3 separate regions of the Homo sapiens genome follow, and regions 1 and 3 are each linked to region 2. The links come from fine-mapping of genetic effects on gene expression. A gene starts in region 2. Each other region holds a variant in brackets. All regions are shown on one strand. Distances are between the middles of the regions.

The links. PIP is the estimated chance that this variant, and not a neighbour inherited with it, causes the effect. A credible set is the group of variants that fine-mapping cannot tell apart.
Region 1: its variant is the best candidate, but not a certain one, in a credible set for the expression of RTN3 in whole blood (TOPMed, PIP 0.59).
Region 3: its variant is the best candidate, but not a certain one, in a credible set for the expression of RTN3 in whole blood (TOPMed, PIP 0.67).

Annotation. Positions count from the first base shown.
Region 1 is chr11:63,722,359-63,730,541 of GRCh38, reverse strand. The region is part of intron 3 of RTN3 (reticulon 3); the gene reads right to left. Among named protein-coding and RNA genes, the nearest start is that of ZFTA, 42 kb to the left of the region's middle. The variant C/T (reference allele first, on the strand shown) is at 4,095.
Region 2 is chr11:63,676,987-63,685,169 of GRCh38, reverse strand. It overlaps RTN3 (reticulon 3), which reads right to left and starts at 3,670. Exons shown (of 9, transcript NM_001265589.2): 1 at 3,392-3,670. The coding sequence starts at 3,533. RefSeq lists a silencer at 3,378-3,497.
Region 3 is chr11:63,650,426-63,658,608 of GRCh38, reverse strand. It overlaps ATL3 (atlastin GTPase 3), which reads left to right. Exons shown (of 13, transcript NM_015459.5): 4 at 6,034-6,138; 5 at 6,623-6,673. LNCROPM (lncRNA regulator of PLAAT3 mediated phospholipid metabolism) reads right to left here. Exons shown (of 4, transcript NR_199012.1): 3 at 7,862-8,049. Among named protein-coding and RNA genes, the nearest start is that of ATL3, 17 kb to the left of the region's middle. The variant A/G (reference allele first, on the strand shown) is at 4,838.

The sequences.
Region 1 (8,183 bases), 45 kb before region 2:
AAATGTTGGGGTTACAGGCATGGGCCATTGCCCAGCCAATTCTGTCAATTTTTGCTTTGTGTATTTTGAAGCCATTATTAGGCACATACACACTTATAACTGTCAAGACTTCCTGGTATCTTTTATCATGATAAGATGTCCCTTATTTATTTCTGATAAAAGCTTTCATCTTCTTATGCTTACTGTTTGCATGGCATACATTTATAAATTTTTTGGGATATCTTTTCCATCCATTTACTTTCAACCTGTGTCTTTATATTTAAATAACATCTTTTGGCCGAGCACGGTGGCTCACGCCTATGATCCCAGCACTTTGGGAGGCCGAGGAGGGTGGATCACTAGAGGTCAGGAGTTTGAGATCAGCCTGACAAACATGGTGAAACCTCATCTCTACTAAAAATACAAAAATAAGCCAGGCGTGGTGGTGAGTGCCTGTAATCCCAGCTACTTGGGAGGCTGAGGGAGGAGAATCCCTTGAACCCGGAAGGCAGAGGTTGCAGTGAGCTGAGATCACGCCACTGCACTCCAGCCTGGGTGACAGAGTGAGACTCTGTCTCAAAAAATAAATAAAAATAAAATTAATTTAAAAACTAGTTGGGCATCGTGGCATATACCTATAGTCCCAAAAAGGTGAAGTGGGAGGATTGCTTGAGCCTGGGAGGTTGAGGTACAGTGAGCTGTGTTCATGCCACTCACTGCACTACAGCCTGGGTGACAGAGCGAGACCCTGTCTCCAAATATATATATATTTATAGTACCATTACATTAAAAATGTAGAAACAGGCTGGGCATAGTGGCTCATGCCTATAATCCCAGCACTTTGGGAGACCAAGGTGGGAGGATTACTTGAGCCCAGGAGATCAATGCCAGTGTTGGCAACATAATGAGACTCTGTCTCTACTAAAAAAATAAAAAAATTAGCTAGGTGTGGTGGCATGCACCTGTGGTCCCAGGTACATGGGAGGCTGAGGCACGAGGATTGCTTGAGCCCAGGAGGTCTAGGTTGCAGTGAGTCATGATTGCACCACTGCACTCCAGACTGGGATACAGAGCCACAGAGCCAGATCCTGTCTCAAACAAACAAAAAAAAAAAAAAAAAAAAAAAGCAGAAACCTTTGCTATAGTACAGTCCATATACTCGTTTTTTTCTGTTATAATTGTCCTAAGAAATAAACATCATAACCTCTATACACGTTATTACAATTTTTGCTTTAAGCAATCCTATATATTTTAAGAAATTAAGAGGAAAAAAATAAGCCTTTCATATTCACCCAGGTGTTTACCACTTCCAATTCTCTTCATTCCTTCCTAAAGGTCTGAGTTTTTATTTGGTATCACTTTCCTTTAATCTGAAAAACTTCCTTTAGCATTTCTTGTAGTGCAGGTCTTCTGGTAGAATTCTTTTAGTTTTCTTTTATCTAAAAATGTCTTTTAATCTTGCAGTTTTTTTGTTTTTTTTGTTGTTTTTTTCCTGAATACAGAAACCTGGGTTGACAGGTTTTTTTTCCCTGTTGGGCACTTTATAAGATGTTACTCTACTGCCTTTTAAACATCTGTGGTTTCTAGTAAGAAGTAAGCTCTAATTATAATTGTCATTTCCCTGTGTCATTCTTCTCTAGCTACTTTCTTTTCTTTTTTCTTTTTTTTTTTTTTTTGAGACGGAGTCTCGCTCTGTCGCCCAGGCTGGAGTGCAGTGGCGCAATCCCGGCTCACTGCAACCTCCGCCTCCTGGGTTCAAGTGATTCTCTTGCCTCAGCCTCCTGGGTAGCTGGGATTACAGGTGTGCACTGCCACCCCGGCTAATTTTTGTATTTTTAGTAGAGATGGGGTTTTACCATGTTGGTCAGGCTGGTCTCGAACTCCTGACCTTGTGACCCACCTGTCTCGGCCTTCCAACGTGTGGGGATTACAGGCGTGAGCCACCGCGCCCAGCCTCTTCTCTAGCTACTTTCAAGATTTTCTCCTTATTTTTGGTTTTCAGCAACTTGACTACGATACACTGTATAGGAAAGGGTGAAAACTCAGCAGGCCTAGAATGCCAAGCCCTGCACATGCCAAAGAAAGGTCTGTCTTCAGGACTAGCCCTTTGCTGGCTCCTTGGAGATGGCCTCTGAGCCCTTTGAATATTCTGCTTCATAAGTATTTTTGCATGCCTGAGGTCTTAGGCCATGCTGTATCAGATAAATTTATCCTAACAATATGATTTATTGCCAGTACATGTTTTTGCTCTGGGGGTCTGGGGTCTGAGTAGCTGAGTTCAGTCATATGGGCACTGCATGCCGTGCTAGACACCAAAGATTGAAAGAGCTTCCTTGGTTGGGAATCCTTTGCACATGTTATCACGCATCACTGTAAAAGAATTAAGTACATCCCTGTATGACTCCATTCAATACCTGGAAGCTTGCATCTGATCTCTCCTAGATTTTATCCCGTGTGTCTTTTCCTCTGGCCAATTCTAACCTATGTCCTTTTGCTGTAATAAACCATTAACTGCTAGTTTACAGTTTATGAGTCCTATGGGTCCTTCTAGCAAATCACTGGCCCTGATGGTTATCTTGGGGACCCCGACACATACACCAAGGTATGGTTTTCTTTGTAATTATCCTAGTAGGTGGTGTTTGATGAGCGTCTTTCATCAGTAAATGTGCCTTTCATAAAATTTAAGAAAATTTCAGCCATTTTATCTTTAAATATGTCCTTCTCCAGTCTCTCTCTCACTTTCCTCTCCTGCTAGGACTCCAATTATAAAAAATAGGTTTTGCAGGTCTCGCACTCCTGGGCTCAAGTGATCCTCCTGCCTCGGCCTCCCTAAGTGCTGAAGTGGTGGGATTACAGACGTGAGCCACTGTGCCTGGCCAAAGTTAGGTCTTTTGATATTGTCCCACAGGGTTCTGAAGCTCTGGTGACACTTTTAAAAAATATGTGTTCTTTCTGTTCTTTAGTATGCTATCAAGTTCACCAGCTTCTTCCCCTGTCATCTCCATTTTGCTGTTAAGGTCACCTGCTGAATTTTAATTTCAGTGGTTATATTTTACAGTTCTAGAATCCCCACCTGACTCTTTTTTGTTTCGATTTCTAGGTTGAGATTTTCTTTTTTATTCAATACAAGAATATTTCCCTTTACTTCTTTGAGTGATTAAAATGAAAACCCTTAAAATCCTGACTCCTAATTCCAACACATGCAGTTAGTTTCTATCGATTGTCTCTTTTTCTTCAGACTGAGTTATAATTTCTTGGTTCTTAAAACATGTAGTTTTGGATTATATCCTGGACATTGTGAATATTATGCTGTACAAATTCCAGACTGTGTTCTATTCCTCTGGAGAGTATCATTACTTTTGTTTTAACATGTAATAAATTTGGTTAGATTCAAACTGCAAACTTTTTTTTTCAAGATAGAGTCTTACTCTGTCACCCAGGCTGGAGTGCAGTGGTGCGATCTGCACCCCTGACCTCCCTGGGCTCAGGGACTACAGGCACAGGCCACCATGCCTGGCTTAATTTTGTATTTTTTAGTGGAGATGGGGTTTCACCATGCTGCCCAGGCTGGCCTTGAACTCTTGGGCTCAAGTGATCCACCTGCTTCAGCCTCCTGAAGTACTGGGATTACAGGCATGAGCCACTGTGCCTGGCCTTCAAACTACAAACTCGGCTCACTTCTTCTTTTTTTTTTTTTTTTTCAGACGGAGTCTTACTCTGTCACCCAGGCTGTAGTGCAATGGCATGATCTTGGCTCACTGCAACCTCCACCCCCAGGGGTTCAAGCGATTCTCCTGCCTCAGCCACCTGAGTAGGTGGGATTACAGGCGCCTGCCAATGTGCCCGGCTAATTTTTGTATTTTTAGTAGAGATGGGGTTTCACCAGCTTGACCAGGCTGGTCTTGAACTCCTGATCTCGTGATCCACCCGCCTTGGCCTCCCAAAGTGCTGGGATTACAGGCGTGGGCCATTGCACCCGGCCCAGTTCACTTCTTTCATCTCTAGTTGTGCTGCTTATAATCTTTTGTGTTAAGTGTGGTTTACAATTAAACAGAGGCTTAAACACAGTTTATTTTATCTACAGAATTTTAGGCTGTCACTCTCTGGATCTCTCC[C/T]TTCCAAGATTCCTCCTCCCCTTACATTCCACTGACTCAGTGGTTGTGGCTGACCCAAATGCTGTCCACTGCTTAGGTTTTCTATGAAGGTTTAAGCCAGCCTGTCAGGTGCCCACTTCAGCCTGTCCTCTAGCTAAAAGCAGTAAAAATAAAAAACTAATTTCATGCTGTCTCTTCTTACATGTGTCAACTCTCTTTCAGAATCTGACTGCTCCCGTTCATCCTCCAGTGCCTTCGGGTCTTTGTTTTTTAAAAATTTTGTCCAGTTATATGCAGGAAGGTCAGGTCCAGTAAAAGCCTACTTGGCCATAAGAAAAGAAAACCATTCTGACATTGCTTTTAAAAATTACTTCAGATTCCCTGTATATGTAGGTATATAGATTCATTTTTTTTCTTTATGGAATCTTTCTAGCATAGATTCACTTTAAATGATACCAAGATAGGAATTATTTTGTATTCCTTGTTTGGTAACTCTTTTCATTCCACTTTAGCACCCACCATCTGCTGGGTGCTGAACAATGTAGTTTTTACTAATAAATTACGAACATTTTTACATAACAGAAGACACTAACTTTGACAGTAACTAGAAAAATAAGGCACAGAGCTAGAAGTGAAACTGATAAGCAGTAGCACCCTAACGCTGGGGAAATAGTCACATATGTGTAAAAACAGACAAGTATAACAACGTTAACTTAAGGCCGGGCGCGGTGGCTCATGCCTGTAATTCCAGCACTTTGGGAGGCCGAGGCGGGCGGATCACGAGGCCAGGAGATTGAGACCATCCTGGCTAACACAGTGAAACCCCGACTCTACTAAAAATACAAAAATAAAATTAGCTGGGCGTGGTAGCAGGCGCCTGTAGTCCCAGCTACTCAGGAGGCTGAGGCGGGAGAATGGCATGAACCCGGGAGGCGGAGCTTGCAGTGAGCGGAGATTGCACCACTGCACTCCAGCCTGGGCGACAGAGTGAAACTCCTCCATCTCAAAAAAGAAAAAGAAAAAGGAAAAAAAAAAAGAAGAATGTTAACTTCAGCGCTGTCTATAATAGCAAAAAATAGGAAAGAATCTAAATCCTTACCAAAAGAAAATAATATATTCATATAATGGATTACTACATAGCTGTTAAAATGAATAAATTATATAAATTCCAACATGAAAGAAGTTTAAAAACCTAATGTTGAATGGAAAACGTTATACAACAAACATGATAACATGAATGAATGGTTAAAAAGCATAAAACAATACAAACACATTTATTTAAAATAAACTGGAAGGATGTACCAGGTCCATGACGGTGTTACGTCTGGGGAAGGGGAGATGGAGGGCGTGGCCAGGTGGTAATCAAAGAGTCCTTTAGTTTGGAAGCAAATATGACTACCAATGCTAACAATTAACATAAGTTAATTCTACATATAGAGAAGATATGGGTGTAGGCTGCCTTTGTACTTTTCTATATTTTTCCATTTCTTAAAAAAAAAAAAAACAAAACTTTAACAACTTCAATGACTGTGTAATATTCGATTGCACAGTTATACCATAATATACTCAACCAATCTCTAATTGTTAAGACACCGAGATATCTGCCACTATCATAAACTGTGCTATAATGAACATCTGTGTAGTTATTTTTGCACATTTTTAAAAAAGGATAAATTCCAGCTGGGTTCCGTGGCTCACGCCTGTAATCTCAGTATTTTGGGAAGCCAAGGCGGGCGGATCACGAGGTCAGGAGTTCGAGACCAGCCTGGCCAATATAGTGAAACTCCGTCTTTACTAATAATACAAAAAATTAGCCGGGCGTGGTGGCAGGCACCTGTAATCCCAGCTACTTGGGAGGCTGAGGCAGGAGAATCGCTTGAACCCGGGAGGTGGAGGTTGCAGTGACCCGAGATCGTGCCATTGCACTCCAGCCTGGGCAACACGGTGAGACTCTGTCTTTAAAAAAAAAAAAAAAAAAAAAAAAGGGCCGGGCACGGGTGGCTCACGCCTGTAATCCCAGCACTTTGGGAGGCCGAGGTGGGCAGATCACCAGGTCAGGAGATTGAGGCCATCCTGGCTAACATGGTGAAACCCCGTCTGTACTAAAAAATACAAAAAATTAGCCGGGCGTGGTAGCAGGCGCCCGTAATCCCAGCTACTCGGGAGGCTGAGGCAGGAGAATGGCGTGAACCCGGGAGGCAGAGCTTGCAGTGAGCCGAGATTGCGCCACTGCACTCCAGCCTGGGCGACAGAGCGAGACTCTGTCTCAAAAAAAAAAAAAAAAAAAAAAAAAAAGAATTCCTAAAAACAAGATTGCTAGGGCAGTTCTAGGTCTGTTACATATTGCCAACTGCCTTCCAGAAAGGCTGTAACAATTTACATGTACTTCACCAAACTATATGCTTATTTCCTTGCATCCTGCCAATCTGGATACTAAAACACAAAAAACTATCTTCACTACACTAGGTATGTGAGAGGCAGGGATCTGATTTTCTTCCCCAAACTATGAGAGTCTATCATAACTTAATTACTCAGCAACCAACTATAATATGATAAAGGCTTCATTACAAGCTGTTACATAATATACCATAAAATAGCAAAAACAAACAGAAAACCACTAATTCTTTCATTGTTTCTTTTGCCTATTTTCCCAAACAACTTAAGGCAGAATATAATTAAAGCACTGTTTTTACCTTAGAAAGGAAGAATATGCAGATACACGTATTTAAAACTAGACAATCGGCTGTGTGTGGTGGCTCAGGCCTGTAAATCCCAGCACTTTGAGAGGCCAACGCAGGCGGATCACTTGAAGCCAGGAGTTTGAGAGACCAGCCTGGCCAACATGGTGAAACCCCATCTCTAGTAAAAATACAAAAAATTAGCTGGGCGTGGTGGCACACGCCTGTAATCCCAGCTACTCGGAAGGCTGAGGCAGGAGAGTCGCTTGAACCCTGGAGGTGGAGGTTGCAGTGAGCCGAGATCGCGCCACTGCACTCCAGCCTGGGCAACAGAGTGAGACTCTGTCTCAAAAAATTAAAAAAAAAAAAAAAAAGATAAATAAATAAAACTAGACACTGATGCATTTTACTGAAATGGTTTATGTTTTTATTTATTTATTTCACTGCAATGAAATGGATTATATTTTTAAAGATTTATTCATAAATAAGACAATTTTAAAAGGTTTTCACTTTTGAAAGCTGCAAGAAAGGCCTTTAAACTTCTTGGTCTAACTATACCGGTCTTCTTTAATTACAATCTAAAAACATACACTAATCATAGACTTTGGTCAGTGACAAATATCCTGAACTTCCATAGCCCTTTACATCTCTCACGCTAGATTAAATAATTCAGTTGATAATCACTAATAATTAGCATTTACACAGCACTTTATTTACTGCAACATACAAAGCAGGGCAAAATAATGATCATCACATTAACAAAGGAAGATGCTGAACCAATTAGACTAGTCATCTAAGGTCATGCTAAAACAGGAATTTGCCAGAATTAGACACTGGAGTTCTTGTAGCATAATTCCTATATGCCTTATTGCCCAAAAGTTACTACCTGTAAGAATTATGACAACTGAGGAAGAAATCTAGAATGTACCAGAGCCAGAGAATCATATTATTTAAATGATAATTGAAGACCATCTACTTCACTTTACATCCTCACTTTACAGATATTAAAACTGAGGCCCCCGAAAGGTTATGTAAGTTACTTGTTCAAAGTCATACTTCTAGACACAGCACAGCAAGAATTAGAACCTAGTACTCTTTAATCCAAATTCAGTGAGCTTCAAATGCTAGAGTATAAGAGCTATCCTTAATTGGTAATTCAAAATTTTTGGTTTATCAAAAAGCCTCAATGTCTTTCACTGATAATTGTTAGTGAAATAATTCATATCATTCATTCAACAAATAATTATCCAGTACTACTTATGTGGCAGGCCCTGTATTTGGTGCTAAATCTGACTGCATATTTACTATGTGCTAGGCACTGTATTACCTGCATTTTCATATTTAATCCTCACAATACCATTGTAAGGTTAAGTACAATTTATCTATTTTAAATATTAAAACTTAAAAAGATAAATCTACCTACAGTTTCCAG
Region 2 (8,183 bases):
GACCCAACAAATGAGGATCTTGCATTGGGCCCACCAAAACTGTATTAGTGCTTTTTAGACAATATGAATGCACATTTGCAATGGATAAGCATTTAAGATAAGAGTCTCTTGGCTGGGCTCAGTGGCTCATGCCTGTAATCCCAACACCTTGGGAGGCCGAGGTGGGCGGATCACTTGAGGTCAGGAGTTCAAGACCAGCCTGGCCAACATGGCAAAACCCCATATCTAGTAAAAGTACAAAAATTATCTGGGCGTGGTGGTGCATGTCTGTAATCCCACCTACTCAGGAGGCTAAGGTGGGAGAATGGTTTGAGCCCAGGAGACAGAGGTTGCAGTGAGCCAAGATCACACCACTGCACTCCAGCCTGGGCTACAGAGCGAGACTCCAAAAAGAGTTTCTCTTTAGTTTATTTCTCAAGTGTGCCTTTCTAGCTCGTAAATTTGATAATTTATTCAACAAATACTTACCAAGTACTACTATATATCACTGTTTTAAGTGCTAATAGTGATACGTGTCTACAGCACATCTAAGAAATACAAATTCTGTAATAAAATTTTACTAAGAAATAATGGGTAAAGCTGGTCACAGTGGCTCCCATCTGTAATCCCAGCACTTTGGGAGGCCGAGGAGGGCAGATCACATGAGGCCAGGAGTTTGAGACCAGCCTGGCCAACATGGCAAAACCCCATCTCTACCAAAGATATAAAAATTAACCAGGTGTGGGCCGTGTGTGGTGGCTCATGCCTGTATTCCCAGCATTTTGGGAGGCCGAGGTGGGCGGATCACGAGGTCAGGAGATCAAGACCATCCTGGCTAACACTGTGAAACCCTGTTTCTACTAAAAATACAAAAAATTAGCCGGGCATGGTGGTGGGCACCTGTAGTCCCAGCTACTGGGAAGCTGAGGCAGGAGAATGGCATGAACCTGGGAGATGGAGGTTGCAGTGAGCTGAGATCGCACCACTGCACTCCAGCCTGGGCGACAAAGCGAGACTCCGTCTCAAAAAAAAAACCAAAAAAAAAAAAAAAAAAAAAAAAACCAAAAGAAAATTAACCACGCGTGGTGGCACACGCCTGTAATTCCAGCTACTCGGGTGGCTGAAGCATGAGAATCATTTGAACCCCGGAGATGGAGGTTGCAGTGAGCCAAGATGGCTCCACTGCACTCCAGTCTGTGACAGAGCAAGACCTTGTCTAAAAAAAAAAAAAAAAAAAAAAAAAAAAAGAAAGAAAAGAAAAGAGAAAGAAATAACGAGTGGAAACCGCGGCATTTAATATTATTCGGAAAATGTAATGCAAACTCATGTACTTGGAACAGCACTTCACGATATAATTCTACTACTTTCGACAAAACACATAATTTCAGCACCTTTTCCACTATTATAAAGAGAAGTGCAAAAAATACACAATAAATAGATAAAAATTGTGACAAGGGTAGATGACATAAAAAAAGGTAAGCCAAACAGAAATATGTTATGTCATTAAATTCGTATTGCCAATTTAGGTGCCAATTAGGTTGTGGTATGCCTGTGTGTCTGTGAACAAAATACTCTTATTTCATTGGCCTACTAGGCCAGTTCTTCCATAAGTGCATTAAAAGAATGAAAAAGTTGAATCTCAAATGATTTCACCATTTAGTTATAAACAAACTAGGACTAAATTTTCAAATCTGCTAACTAAAATGACTCTTCAACACTTAACATCTGTCTTATCTTGAGCTTACAGAGCCAAATTTCTAAAACTTAGGTCTGAATCAAAAATGAAAAATCAAGAAAACCCAAAAGGTAAGTACAAAAGGGCCTACCAAACAGTAAGCAATGACAAGTGATTAAAGCAAAAAGATCAAGTTGCTAAGTTATAAGGAAGTCGCTGTTCATCTGGACCTTAGCCCAGAACACAAAAATTTGGAGAAAAGGCTGGTGGTTTAAAGGAGACAGGGTTCTAAATTTGCTGCCTCATTCTTTTATCTGCAAAAGCTTCCTGATACTGCCTGTTTCTACTGAAATGGCCATAACCACACTGAAAAAATCCAACAGGGCTCCAAAGCTCTCAGACAGGTGAAAATTCACTGCTAGAAAAACACGTAGAGAATAATACATTTAAGGTTAAGATCAGAAATTTTTTCTTTAGAACCCAAGATTCTGCCAAAGGAGACAACGAAGCATTAAAAAAAAATGATCAAAATCCTTTAACATAACTAAATAGAGAGCAAAATTATCTCTACTCTCCCGAATTTACGGCCCTGCCTTTGACAAAAGGCATTTTTTTTCCCTTCAAAGACTCCGTTCCTTTGAGAACTACCACCTGCCCATGGTGGTTTTTTTTTCCCCCCTTAAGAAGGCATCTGCACTGCAGATTTCTGCATAAGGGGAGCTTGCCAGGCAGCTCTTACCAGCAGGCAGACGCGTATACAATGCAAACTAAAGGAGGTCTGCAGCTTCGTTCTTAGTCTTTCACAGAGATGGGAGAAGGGGACTCAACCAGCCCTTGCTTTGTCTGAATGTTCTCCCCCTCCCCCTTTCTGCAATAAACACCCCCCTTTGTTATACTTCGATCAATAGTAGCCCACAGAAAACATGAAATCAAAACATGTTGATAGCTTAGCATGACTCTATTTTCTAGAATATAAGCGACTGATTGCGTGTCCCCACCCCCACGCAGCGCCAGGGAAGAGCAGGCTGTTGCAGATGCAGCCACGGATCCATCTTGGACCATTAGCAGCTCCCTCCCAAATCTTCCCTGAGCTATTCTCATCACGCCTCCTTCTACCTCGGAGCCTCAGAAAAATCCGGCATTCATGGAGTCTAGCCGAAAACAGTAAAAACAAAACAAACAAACAAAAAAAACAGGCTACAATGCTTCCATTAAACTTCCTCATCCTTCCCATGGGCAGCCAAAAATATTTTGGAGGACTATCATGAATGCTTGATTATGTCAACACCTGTCTGCAAACCTGCAATGCAACCCTTTCACCACCATCCCCTCAAAAATAGTAACAAATTGTTTCTCCCACCACCCACCTGCCCGTATCCTTTCAATCTCTCTAATCCTCACTAAATCACCCAGGTTCACCATATGCATCGAGCAACTCTCCATTTTATCCCACGAGCTGGTATTTTTCCCCACCTGCCCAGTCTTGGCGTTAACGCCCACTGGACTATCTCCCCGCCCCCAACCTGTTTTCCTCACACCCCGCTATTTCCTCACCGCCTGCACAACCTTACGTTCCCCTTCCCCTTTGCCCATTTTCCAAACGCTCGTCCCCGGGGGGCTGAAGCCGTCAGTAGTCGAGGGTAATTCGTCCTCCTCCCGCCTCGCCTCCTAATCCCCCCAGCCCCCAGGCTCCCGCTCGCCCTCTTTCCCAGGGCGGGGGCTCCCCGCGCGCCTTACCCGCACAGGAGGAGCTGCAGCTCTTCGTCCCCAGGGCGGGGCAGGCTCCTGGGCTCCCGCCGCCGCCGGGCGCGGACGGCTCGGCTCCGAAGGACGACGAGGAGATGGAATGGGACTGAGTGGCCGCCGACGGCTCCGCCATGGCTACGCGAGCGAGGGTGGGAGAAGGGTGAAAAGAGATACGGGGCGGGAGAGAGGGAGGGGAAATAGAATAATCCGGCAACTGGCTCGCTCAAGTCCCTTTACTCCGCCTGCTCCGAGGACAGACTCCGACAGACTGACTGACTCAGCCGAGCGCAGCTAGAGGGCGGGAGCGCGAGCGCGCATGCGCACAAAGGGCCCCAAGCGGGTGCCAAAGCGCGCAGCGGCGCAGGGCGCAGGCGCAAGAACCGCTCCTCTGCGCTCTTGCAGGGAAGGAGGGGCAAAGCCGGCCTCACGCGGCGCCTCGCGCGCCGAGGGTTGGGGAGCGTCCCTTGGGGACCAGACGCAAAAGGCGTATCCAAGCCCCAATCCCCGCCCACGACTGCGGCTAATCGTGGAGCTGCGGGATAGTATTCCCTCCTGCCTCTTTATGTGAATGTTTTAGGGTCGGCAGATTATGTATTTTAACGGTAGAAATGTCTTTGGGCTTCCATTATGGAAACTCTCTTTCCCGTACATTCCAGAGCCTATATCTTTTGTTTGATGCATTCCCACCTGTGACTCCAATAAAAACTGAAAACCAGAGTGTAGAGTAGGCCCACTCTGCAAGGTGCTTTGTGAATCTCACTGGCTGTGTCGTAATATCTCCTCACCGAGAGGCAGAGATGGCACGGCCCCCCATTTGGTAGGTGGAGAAAGATGCTATACAGAATGAAAAACGATTACTCATTCCAATCACATTGCAATGCAGTCGCAGAACCTGCTTCGTATTCTTATCTCGTTACTGTTGCCAGAGAAGGGTCCACCTTGGGTCTTAAGGTTCTCTTTTCCTCCGAATAGACTGTCAGATAGAGACGACATATTTTAGAGAGGGAAAAAAAATGCTGAGCTGATGAAGAAGAGCCAGGAGATAAGAAAATGTTGGCTGTGATTATGGGGGATGATAAAATTAGATATTAAAAATTCAGAATAAGGCCGCAGTCAGTGGCAGAGGCCCGTAGTCTCTGCTACGGCAGAGAAGGGAGGATCACTTGAGCCCAGGAGTTGGAGTCCAGCCTGGGCCACACAGCGAGAACCTTCCTGCCTTAAAAAAAAAAAAAAAAGTAAAAAAAATCAGAATAAGGCACAAAATACACATAATTGAATTTTATTCATAGACTAAAAGAGGTCCTTAGCAGAACATGTATTTAAAACCAGATTTCTAGCCTATATTGGATTTTGTTCATTTTTTGCTTTTCCTGGGCTGGATTGCCAAATTCGAAGCCTTCTCCCTACATCTGGTCAAAATATTGGAAAGGTGCATAGTCTTTGTTAAAGGAGGACTGTTGGCTGGGCGCGGTGGCTCACACCTGTAATCCCAGCACTTTGGGAGGCCGAGGCAGGTGGATCATCTGATGTCAGGAGTTCAAGAACAGCCTGGCCAATGTGGTGAAACCCTGTCTCTACTAAAAATACAAAAATTAGCTGGGGGTAGTGGCGGGCGCCTGTAATCCCAACTACTCGGGAGGCTGAGGCAGGAGAATTGCTTGAACTCGGGAGGCAGAGGTTGCAGTGAGCAGAGATCTCACCATTGCACTCCAGCTTGGGTGAAAGAGCAAATCTCCGTCAAATAAAAAAAAAAAAAGGAGGACTGTATCCTGGAAATAATAAAAATCAAGGCTGTCGACTGTTACTGCTAAAGCAGCAATCGATGACCCAAAGTACAATTGCAGGATCAGCAGATCCTGTAAAGATGCAGCCTCATGAAGCGGGAGGTGGTCAGCCAAGCTGCCACTGAGGGGAAAGGCGATCTGACCAGTGGAAATCTTCTAGAACAAGCTGTGTACTACATCTGCCCTTGAGTTTTTAAGGTCAGGTAAAGCCCCAGGGGGTGGGAGGATGACTCCTGGCCTTTGCAATGCTCTGAAAAAGGCATAGAAAAATATTTCCCAAAATAACTTTGTGGCTAATACCTTACCCTGGCACTTACTGCATCAGCTGATAATGCAGCAAACTGTCTCTTGGATGGCAAAGGGAAATAATAGCAGATCGGATAACCAAGCCAGTTATCTACCCATTCTGATACGTGCATATGTTTTTTTAAAAATCGCATTATTAGGGGAGCTGTTTTCTTCTTCCTTCCTTCTTTCTTGTCTATTAAACGCTCTGCTCCTTAAAACAAAACAAACAAACAAAAATCTACATTATTAAGTGCTAGATAAGGAAATAAATGATGCTGGTAGCTAACTCTGACAGCACTTGCTACAATCTGGAGACTCCAGCTGGAAGGAAGTCCATTTTCCTAATATGTAGCAGCAGAGAAGTTAAAAAGCAAGATATGCACGTGGTCTTACTGGTCTTTTCAGACCCTTCAGACATTTTTTTTTTTGAGATGGAGTCTTGCTCTATTGCCCAGGCTGGAGTGCAGTAGTGCCATCTTGGCTCACTGCAACCTCCGCCTCCCGGGTTCAAGCAGTTCTGGTTCAGCCTCCTGAGTAGCTGGGATTACAGGCACATGCCTCCATGTCCGGCTAATTTTTGTATTTTTAGTAGAGGCGGGGTTTCACCATGTTGGCCAGGGTGGTCTTGAACTCCTGACCTCGGGTGATCCTCCTGCCTCAGTTTCCCACACCTGGGATTATAGGCGTGAGCCACTGTGCCCGGCCAGTTCTATGAATGTGTATTGATCATGTGCTGTGTGTATAACACAATTCTGGGAACTTTGAAGAGACCTCCAAAATATGTTAGTCTTGTCTTCAATGAGCTTACAAGCTAGTTAGGACAAAAAACATACTCACATAAAGTTAAATAATATAAATTAAATAGCAACTAAAAACAACCCCAAACACCATAAAACCATAGTGCTTTGATTAGATGGCAAGTAAATTAAATGAATTTAAAAGAGAGGGGCCAGGCGCAGTGGCTCACGCCTGTAATCCCAGCACTTTGGGAGGGCAAGGTAGGCGGATCACCTGAGGTCAAAAGTTTGAGACTAGTCTGGCCAACATGGAGAAACCCCATCTCTACTGAAAATACAAAATTACCCAGGCATAGTGGTGTGTACCTGTAATCCCAGCTACTCGGGAGGCTGAGGCACGAGAATCACCTGAGCCTGGGAGGCAGAGGTTGCAATGAGCCAAGATCATGCCACTGCACTCCAGCCTGGGCAACACAGTGAGACTCCACCTCAAACAAAAACAAAAACAAAAACAAAAACAACGAGGGGAAGGAATTACCATGAAGTTGTAGTGGCTTAGGGAGGTTTTTTTTTTTTTTCTGTCACCCAGGCTGGAGTGCAGTGGTGCGATCTCGGCTCACTGCAACCTCTGCCTCCCAGGTTTAAGTGATTCTCCTGCCTCAGCCTCCCGAGTAGCTGGGACTACAGGTGCGTGCCACCGTGCCTGGCTAATTTTTTGTATTTTTAGTAGAGACGGGGTTTCACTGTGTTAGCCAGGATGGTCTCGATGTCCTGACCTCGTGATCTGCCTGCCTCGGCCTCCCAAAGTGCTGGGATTACAGGCGTGAGCCACTGCGCCCAGCCAGGAGGTTTTGTGAAGATGCTCAAAGTTAGATAGGTGTTTGGAATTGTAAGGAAGTCATTAAAAGCAGAAAAGGATGGTATGAAGCAAATACAGGGGTTGCTTTTGTGAATGTATACAAAAAAAGTACTCTTCTGGGCAGATGAATCACAAAAAAGAACCTCTTTCTCCCAGCCCCACCCATGATACAGTTCCATGCTGATTTGGCTAGCAGAACCTCACCTAGATTTGATCCCCTCTTGCCCCTTGTCTCCACAAGCTGCCTTGGTGTAACACTCAGACTGTACAGCCATATGTGGTGGCTAAAGGCTCAGACGTGAGCGTGTATAAGGTGTCTTGGGTGTTGGTTAGACCAAATTGGCTGGAGCTGAAGGCTTGAATTAGGACAGGAGGGAAGATATAGGGATAACATCTAAAATGAGGAAGATATGTTGGGGCCAGTTTTTGGAGAAGCAGTAGTATTGAACCAAAGAACTGAGGCTTTGTCTTAAGAATAATGGGGATTGAGTGGAAGTTTTTGGTGGGAAATGGCTCAGCTGGGATTTTTTTTTTCCTTTTTTTTGTCCAAGATGGGATTTTTTTTTTTTTTGAGATGGAGTCTCACTCTGTCACCCAGGCTGGAGTGCAGTGGCATGATCTCAGCTGACTGCACCCTCCACCTCCTGGGTTCAAGTGATTCTTCTGCCTCAGCTTCCCGAGTAGCTGGGACTACAGGCCCATGCCACCATGCCTGGCTAATTTTTATATTTTTAGTAGAGACGAGGTTTCACCATGTTGGCTAGGCTGGTCTTGTACTCCTGACCTCGTGATCTGCCTGCCTCAGCCTCCCAAAGTCCTGGGATTACAGGCGTGAGCCACCGCGCCCGGCCCAAGATGGAATTTTTAAAGTGCTCCCTGGCTGTCATGGTGGCTCACCTCTGTAATCCCTACACTTTGAGAGGCCAAGGCAGGAGGATGGCTTGGGCCCAAGAGTTCAAGACCAGCCTGGACAATATAGCGAGACCTCATCTTGAAAAATAAAATAACTCCAGGCGCGGTGGCTCACGCCTGTAATCCCAGCACTTTGGGAGGCCGAGGTGGGTGGATCACGAGGTCAGGAGATCGAGACCATCCTGGCTAACACAGTGAAACCC
Region 3 (8,183 bases), 27 kb after region 2:
TTTTAGTCTGTTGTGGATAAATAGGATTTTCTGACACAGGTATGCGAAGTTGTAGCTCTGATGTCTAGCTGTAGTCTCCTTGGTCTGCTGATTGCATTATTTTAATTTTCTTTTCTGGAAAAACATTTTTGCTAAAAGCTATACAGACTTTTTTGTTTGTACCTAGCAGTACTTTATGTAGTATTCCTTAGGGCTATGTAGCATTTTTAGACTCAGTTAAAAAATATTAATCTGTTGCTGACTCTGTTAATTCCTATTTCAACATGTGTTTCCTTGAATAATTCAGGATACAACTTACTGTGTATGACAGCTTTCCTTCACACACTATTTTTGTGGGTGTGTGTATATCCAACTTGGGGAGAATTTAAAAAACACATAGCTTTTTAATTTGTTTGAAACAGACCTTCTGCCTGTTACATTTTGTGCTCTTAACCAATTAAAGAAGCCAGTGGCAGCCGGGTGCTGTGGCTCACGTCTGTAATACCAACACTTTGGGAGGCCAGGGTGGGCAGATCACAAGGTCAGGAGTTTGAGACCAGCCTGGCCAACATAGTGAAACCCTGTCTCTACTAAAAATACAAAAAATTAGCTGGGTGTGGTGGTGGGTGCCTGTAATCCCAGCTACTTGGGAGGCTGAGGCAGGAGAAACGCTTGAACCCGGGAGGCAGAGGTTGCAGTGAGCCGAGATCACACCACTGTCCTCCAGCTCGGGCGACAGTACGAGACTCCGTCTCAAAAAAAAAAAAAAAAAGCCAATGGCATTTTTAGTTTCATATTGTGTTTTCCACTGGTATATACCTGTTGATTTGTTTGTGTCTTTTATGAACTGTTATTTTCTGAAATTTTTTTTCAATAAAAGGAAGGAAGATGTGAAAACAACTTTTTATCAAAGTGAATGATTTAAAATTAATACATATTGATTGTTTTTAAGATTCTTAAATAAAATGCATGAATATAGTTTAAAAGGTCAGGTACTACTGTAAGGCTTCTAACAGAAAGCAGCTGTCATGTGTGTTATTCTCCTCTCTACCCAGTTTTCACTTCCCAGAGGCTGATGCTCTTATGTGTTACCACTTCTGTTCTTTACTTCCTTACTCCTGTATGGGTGGCACAGACCTGGCTGTTGTTCTGGGAGTTGAGCAGGGAAATGGCATTGGGGATCTCACTGTTCAGAAGGTGGGCATTCACTATCCCCTAGCTATCAGTAGGGCTTCTTAGCCCCAGTCTCATCTATGCCTTGTAAGCTATGGGCATAGAGCCTCTCCACAGATTTCTTTGTAAGGATCGGGAGGGGTAAGTCATGTGTTTCTTATACAGACTTTCATCCATTACTTCTGTTTTTAGCCCAATCCTATAAGCATGCCTTCACACCTGTTTGTCCTTTTTTTTTTTTTTTTTTTGAGATGTAGTCTCACTCTGTTGCCCAGGCTGGAGTGCAGTGGCACCATCTTGGTCACTACAGTCTCCGCCTCCCAGGTTCAAGCAATTCTCCTGCCTCAGCCTCCTCATTAGCTGGGAGTACAGGTGCACACCACCATGCCTGGATAATTTTTGTATTTTTAGTAGAGACAGGGTTTCACAATGTTGGCCAGGCTGGTCTGGAACTCCTGACCTCGTGATCCGCCTGTCTCAGCCTCCCAAAGTGCTGGGATTACAGGGGTGAGCCACCACACCTGGCCACCTTTGATATTTTGAAGTGCTGGAGTGTTGGTACTGAATTCTTTTAGCTTTCATACATCTGAAAAATCTTTATTTTGCCTTTGTTTTGGAAAATATTTACTCTTAGTGTAGAGTTCTAGGCCAACGTATTTTTCTCAGTACTTCAAAGGTGTTGCCCCTTTGCCTTTTTGCTGACATTGTTTCTTTTTTTTTTTTTTGAGAGGGAGTCTCTCTGTTGCTCAGGCTGGAGTGCAGTGGTGCGATCTCGGCTCACTTCAACCTCTGCCTCCCGGGTTCAAGCAATTCTCCTGTCTCAGCCTTCTGAGTAGCTGGGACTACAGGCGCGCACCACCACGCCTGGCTAATTTTTGTATTTTTAGTAGAGACGGGGTTTCGCCATATTGGTCAGGCTGGTCTTGCACTCCTGACCTCAGGTTATTCACCTGCCTCTGTTTCCCAAAGTGCTGGGATTACAAGCATGAGCCACTGTGCCCAGTCTGCTGACATTGTTTCTGACAAGAAATACACTGTTATTCTTATTTTTGTTCTTTTGTACCTAATCTGTCTTTTTTGTCTGGTTGCTTTTTTCTTTAAATTAAAAAAAATTTTATTTTCGTGGGTACATAGGTATATATATTTATAGGGTATGTCTGGTTGCTTTTAAGATTTTATCACTGTTTTTGAGCAAATTATTATGTGTTTTGATGTAGTTCTTTTTTTTTTTTTGAGACGGAGTCTCACTGTGTCGCCCAGGCTGGAGTGCAGTGGCGTGATCTCGGCTCACTGCAAGCTCCGCCTCCCGGGTTCACGCCATTCTCCTGCCTCAGCCTCCCAAGGAGCTGGGACTACAGGCGCCTACCACCACGCCCGGCTAAGTTTTTGTATTTTTAGTAGAGACGGGGTTTCACTGTGTTAGCCAGGATGGTCTCGATCTCCTGACCTCGTGATCTGCCCGCCTTGGCCTCCCAAAGTGCTGGGATTATAGGCGTGAGCCACTGCGCCAGGCTGATGTAGTTCATGTTATTTGTATGTGGGTTTTGTTGAGCTTCTTGAATCTGCAGATTTATAATGTTTATCAAATTTGGACATTTTAAGGTTATTATTTCTTCAAGTTTTTTTGGTCTGTTACTCCCTTTGGAGACTCCTATTACATGTGCCTCTTGCTGCTTGAAGTTGTTCCACAAGATGTTCATTTAAAATTCTTTGGCCGGCGCGGTGGCGCACGTCTGTAATCTCACACTTTGGGAGGCCGAGGTGGGTGGATCACCTGAAGTCAGGAGTTTGAGACTAGCCTGACCAACATGGTGAAAACCCATCTCTACTAAATACAAAAAATTAGCTGGGTGTGATGGGTCATGCCTGTAATCCCAGCTACTTGGGAGGCTGAGGTGGGAGAATCGCTGGAACCCGGGAGGTGGAGGTTGCAGTGAGCCGAGATCGCACCATTGCACTTCCGCCTGGGCAACAAGAGCTAAACTCCATCTAAAAAAAAAAAAAAAGGCCAGATGCGGTGGCTCACGCCTGTATTCCCAGCACTTTGGGAGGCTGGGGTGGGCGGATCACCTGAGGTCAGGAGTTCGAGACCAGCCTGGCCAACATGGTGATGCCCTGTTGCTACTAAAAATACAAACATTAGCTGGGCGTGGTGGCGCCCACCTGTAATCTCAGCTACTTGGGAGGCAGAGGCAGGAGAATTGCTGGAACCTGGGCGGCGGAGATTGCAGTGGGATTAGGAAGAGTACTCAGTCTTGCCTCAGTAATGAGGAATAACAACACTCTGGTTCCATTTAACAAATCTAAACAGCAAGAACAGAAAAAACCAGAGTTTCCAAATTACTTAACTACATCTCAGAATAAAGCTAGATATTTTATAGGAATGCAAAAATAACCAGCACCCAACAAGGGAAAATCCACAAGTCTACATCCTATCAAAAATTTGCAGACATAAAAGAAGCAGAAAAATATAACCCAAATGAGGAGAAAAATCAATCAAAACTGTCTCAGAACTAACACAGATATTAAAATTAACAGAAAACAACTTTTTTTTTTTTTTTTAGACAGTCTTGCTCAACTAAAAATACAAAAATTAGCCGGGTATGGTGGTGTGCACCTGTAATCCCAGCTACTCAGGAGGCTGAGGCAGGAGAATCGCTTGAACCTGGGAGGTGGAGGTTGTGGTGAGCCGAGGTTGCGCCATTGCACTCCAGCCTGGGTGACGAGCAAAACTCTGTCTCAAAAAAAAAAAAAAAATAGGCCAGACATGGTGGCTTAGGCCTGTAATCCCAGCACTTTGGGAGGCCGAGGTGGGTGGATCATCTGAGGTCAGGAGTTCAAGACGAGTCTGACCAACGTGGTGAAACCCTGTCTCTACTAAAAATACAAAAATTAGCCGGGCATGGTGGCTCATGCCTGTAATCCCAGCTACTCGGGAGGCTGAGGCAGGAGAATCGCTTGGACCTGGGAGGTGGAGGTTGCAGTGAGCCAAGATCGTGCCATTGTACTCCAACCTGGGCAACAGAGTGAAACTCCGTAATCCCAGCACTGTGGGAGGCTGAGGCGGGCGGATCATGAGGTCAGGAGATCGAGACCATCCTGGCTAACACAGTGAAACCCCGTCTCTACTAAAAATACAAAAATTAGCTGGGCGTGGTGGCGGGCGTCTATAGTCCCAGCTATTTGGGAGGCTGAGGCAGGAGAATGGCGTGAACCTGGGAGGCGGAGCTTGCAGTGAGCCGAGATCGCGCCACTGCACTCCAGCCTGGCCACAGCGCAAGACTCCGTCTCAAAAAAAAAAAAAAAACAAATTGTATCTTTATTTTGTTTTAGGTTTTCAGGAAAATTAATTGCAACCTGCCCAGTTCCCACATTCTCCTTCAGTTTGCTCTGTTGTTTACATCTTGTAATAGTGTGATACATTTGTTACAATTAATATTTGAACCAATATATTGTCATTAGCTAAAACCCATACATAGTTTACTTTAGGGCTCACTCATTGTGTTGTACATTGGATTTTGACAACTGTATAGTGACACATGCCCACTATTACTGTATCATACGGAATAGTCACACTGCCCTAAACATTCTCTGTAATGTACCTATCTGTTCCTCTCTTCCCTCCCCACAAACTCCTCCACTGATCTTTTTACTGTCTCCATAGTTTCGCCTTTACCAGAATGTC[A/G]TATAGTTAGAATCATACAATATGCAGCCTTTTCAGATTGGCCTCTTTCACTTAGCAATGCAATTTTAAGATTTCTGCAACTCTTTCGTGTCTTGATAGTTCATTTCTTTTTATTGCTGAATAGTATTCTACATTATGAAGGCACCAGTTTGTTCATCCATTTGCCTGTTGAAGGACATCTTGGTTGCTTTCAAATTTTGACAATTAAGAATAAAGCTCCTATAAATACTCATGTGTTGGTTTTTGTTGAGACATAAGTTTTCAGCTCCTTTGGGTATATACCAAAGAGTTTTGGTTTTTTTTTTTTGGGACAAAATCTCGCTCTCTCACCCAGGCTGGAGTACAGTAGTGTGGTCTCGGCTCACTGCAACCTCTGCCTCCAGGGTTCAAGTGATTCTCCTGCCTCAACCTCTGGAGTAGGTGGGACTACAGGTGTGCACCACCACGCCCATTTTTTTTGTATTTTTAGTAGAGACGGGATTTTGCCATGTTAGCCGGGCTGGTCTCGAACTCTGGACCTCAGGTGATCCACCTGCCTTGGCCTCCCAAAGTACTGGGATTACAGGTGTGAGCCACTGCGCCTGGCCTAATTTTTGTATTTTTGGTAGAGACACGATTTCACCGTGTTGGCCAGGCTGGTCTGGAACTCCTGGCCTCAAGTGATCCACCTGACTTTGCCTCCCTCCCGAAGTGCTGGGATTACAGGCATGAGCCATTGCGCCTGACCTAATTTTTTAAATTTTATGTAGAGACTGGGTCTCACTATGTTGCCCAGGCTGGTATTGAACTGGGCTCAAGTGCTGCTGCTGCCACGGCCTCCCAAACTGTTGGTATTATAGGTGTGAGCCACTGCACCTGGCCAAGATGAATATTTTTTAGTTTCTTTTTCAACAACAGGAAACATCCAAATGCCTGGCTGGGTGATAAGCTAATTGCTTTCAACTTTTGTCTGTTTCAATTGGTGGGGCAATTTTTGCCTTCCATATTGCTCTGTATAACGCTGGATAATCTTCAGTAGAGTGCTGTAGTCAAAGCAAAGCACCTAAATAGTTGTACAGAACCTACAAGCAGGTGCTTAAGGCTCACATAAACATTACCTGTACTTAAGTATATATTACCTGTACTTTTCAATTTCTCCTTTACGGTTTCCTCCTTCTTAGTTTAATCTCTTTTGTTTGTATTTTCCTTTTTTTTAGGTTGCAGTTGTTCTGATGGATACCCAGGGGGCATTTGACAGCCAGTCAACTGTGAAAGACTGTGCTACCATCTTTGCTCTAAGCACTATGACTAGTTCTGTTCAGGTAAAAACCACTTGACTCAGAAAAAAGCTCGCAAAGGAAATAAGATAAAGGGAGGAAATACAGTTTTGGTTATTGTTCTGTTAACAGAATTTCTAGGATGATATGTAAATATTATTTTTAAACTGTAGATGCAGTTAAACTTTTAAAAGTTTGAGAAGGAGCCAAAGAATTTTTCCTCTTTGGTCATAATTATATATAATATGTTCCAAGAAAAGTCCAAAAAATGGAAATTTATTATATCATATAGAAAATACAGATTTGATAAGAGCTTAGGAAAACTGTTTTAAACTGTAAAGGAGGAATTTTTGATTTCAATCTTATGTGCATAGTTTTCCAAAAGACAGATCATATTGCTGTTTGAACAGGCCTCATGTTCTTATATGCAAGTCTTTAATTGTTCAAAGCTTCTGTCAGCCCTTTAGGCTTATTTGGGATTTGTTTGAAGTAAGCCAGAGTAGTATCAATCTGGATTTTTGTTTTCTAGATTTATAATTTATCTCAGAACATTCAAGAAGATGATCTTCAACAGCTGCAGGTATATATTTCTCATAACAATTTTAACATCATATTATTTAAAAGTTTTAAGATTAAGGAACATTTTACAACTGAGTAGTTTTTAGCAAAAGATTGAAATGTAGAGGAAGGTTTTTGGTTCATAGTAATTCTATACTATGTATAGCCATTGGTGGGGTGGAGCAGGAGTGGTCGGGGAAGGCCTTAATGATTTGAGCAGAGAATGAAAGAAAGTGGGCAAGTGAGTCCTTCAGATACATTTGGGCGGAAAACTATTACAGGAGAGGAGCAGCTGCTGGAAGACAGACCCTGAGGGGAGTGTGCTTGGCAAGATCAAGGAATGGCAGGGAGGCCGGTGGGTAGGATTGGAGAGTGTGACAGGAAGGGGTTAAGTGATGAAGTCAGAGAGGCAGTGAGGTCCCACTCATTCTGGGTCTTTTCCTCTGGGGAAGGTGGGAGCCATGGGAGGGTCGTCAGCAATGATGTTATCTGACCTGTTGTAAAGGGATCATTCTGGCTGCTATGTTCAGAATAGACTTTTTTTTTTTTTTTAAGACGAAGTCTTGCTCTTGTCCCCAGGCTGGAGTGCAATGATGCAATCTTGGCTCACTGCAAGCTGGGATTACAGGTGTGCGCCACCATGCCCGGCTACTTTTTGTATTTTTAATAGAGACGGGGTTTCACCATGTCGGTCCGGCTGGTCTCAAATTGTTGACCTCGTGATCCGCCTGCCTCGGCCTCCCAAAGTGCTGGGATTACAGGCATGAGCCACCGCGCCCGGCCTTTTTCTTCTCTTTTTTTATAGCAGCAGGTCTTATCTGTTTTTCCCACAAAATGCTCTTTTGTGAGTATTCCAGGGTTGGATGCAATTCTGGTATGTTACTCTAATGCTACTTCTCCCACTGACATTCAAGAAAGCATCAGAATGTGAGTGAGTAAGGGTGTCATTATTATAGGGATTACCTTGAATTAGTTCTATTTTATGTTTATTTTAAAAAACAAGGAAAATTCCTCCTAAACCTCGATCCTTAATGTTGCTTATGGCAATTGTCTGTACTTCATAATTGGTAGTTCTGTACCAGTGCCATGGCTTAGTGGTTGAGAGCTGTTGCTCTGTAAAACTTCGATCACAACTTGAGTTGGTCACCATTTCACCTGAAATTTATTCCTTTCTAAGCTCCTTCCTTTCAACCATTTTTCGAATGCTTACCTTGTGTGAGGTAGAGGGCCAAGTGCTATAGATATATGTAAGGTCACATTCACAGGTACCAGGTGCGAGGACTTTAGCATATTTTTCTTCAGGACACAATTCAACCCATAAGAAGTAGTAAGTAGATTATGATGCAGTTATGTAATTCACCTTGTCTCACATGACAAGGCTGTTGGTAGACTCAGCAACTGTAAAATATAAATATTACAGAGGAGAAAGTAATATGTTTGTGTGCCTGGAAATCCGTAAGAATGAACTAGAAAATTATTTGGAACTTAAAAAATAATTAAGGTCTCCATTACAAAATACAGATACAAAATCA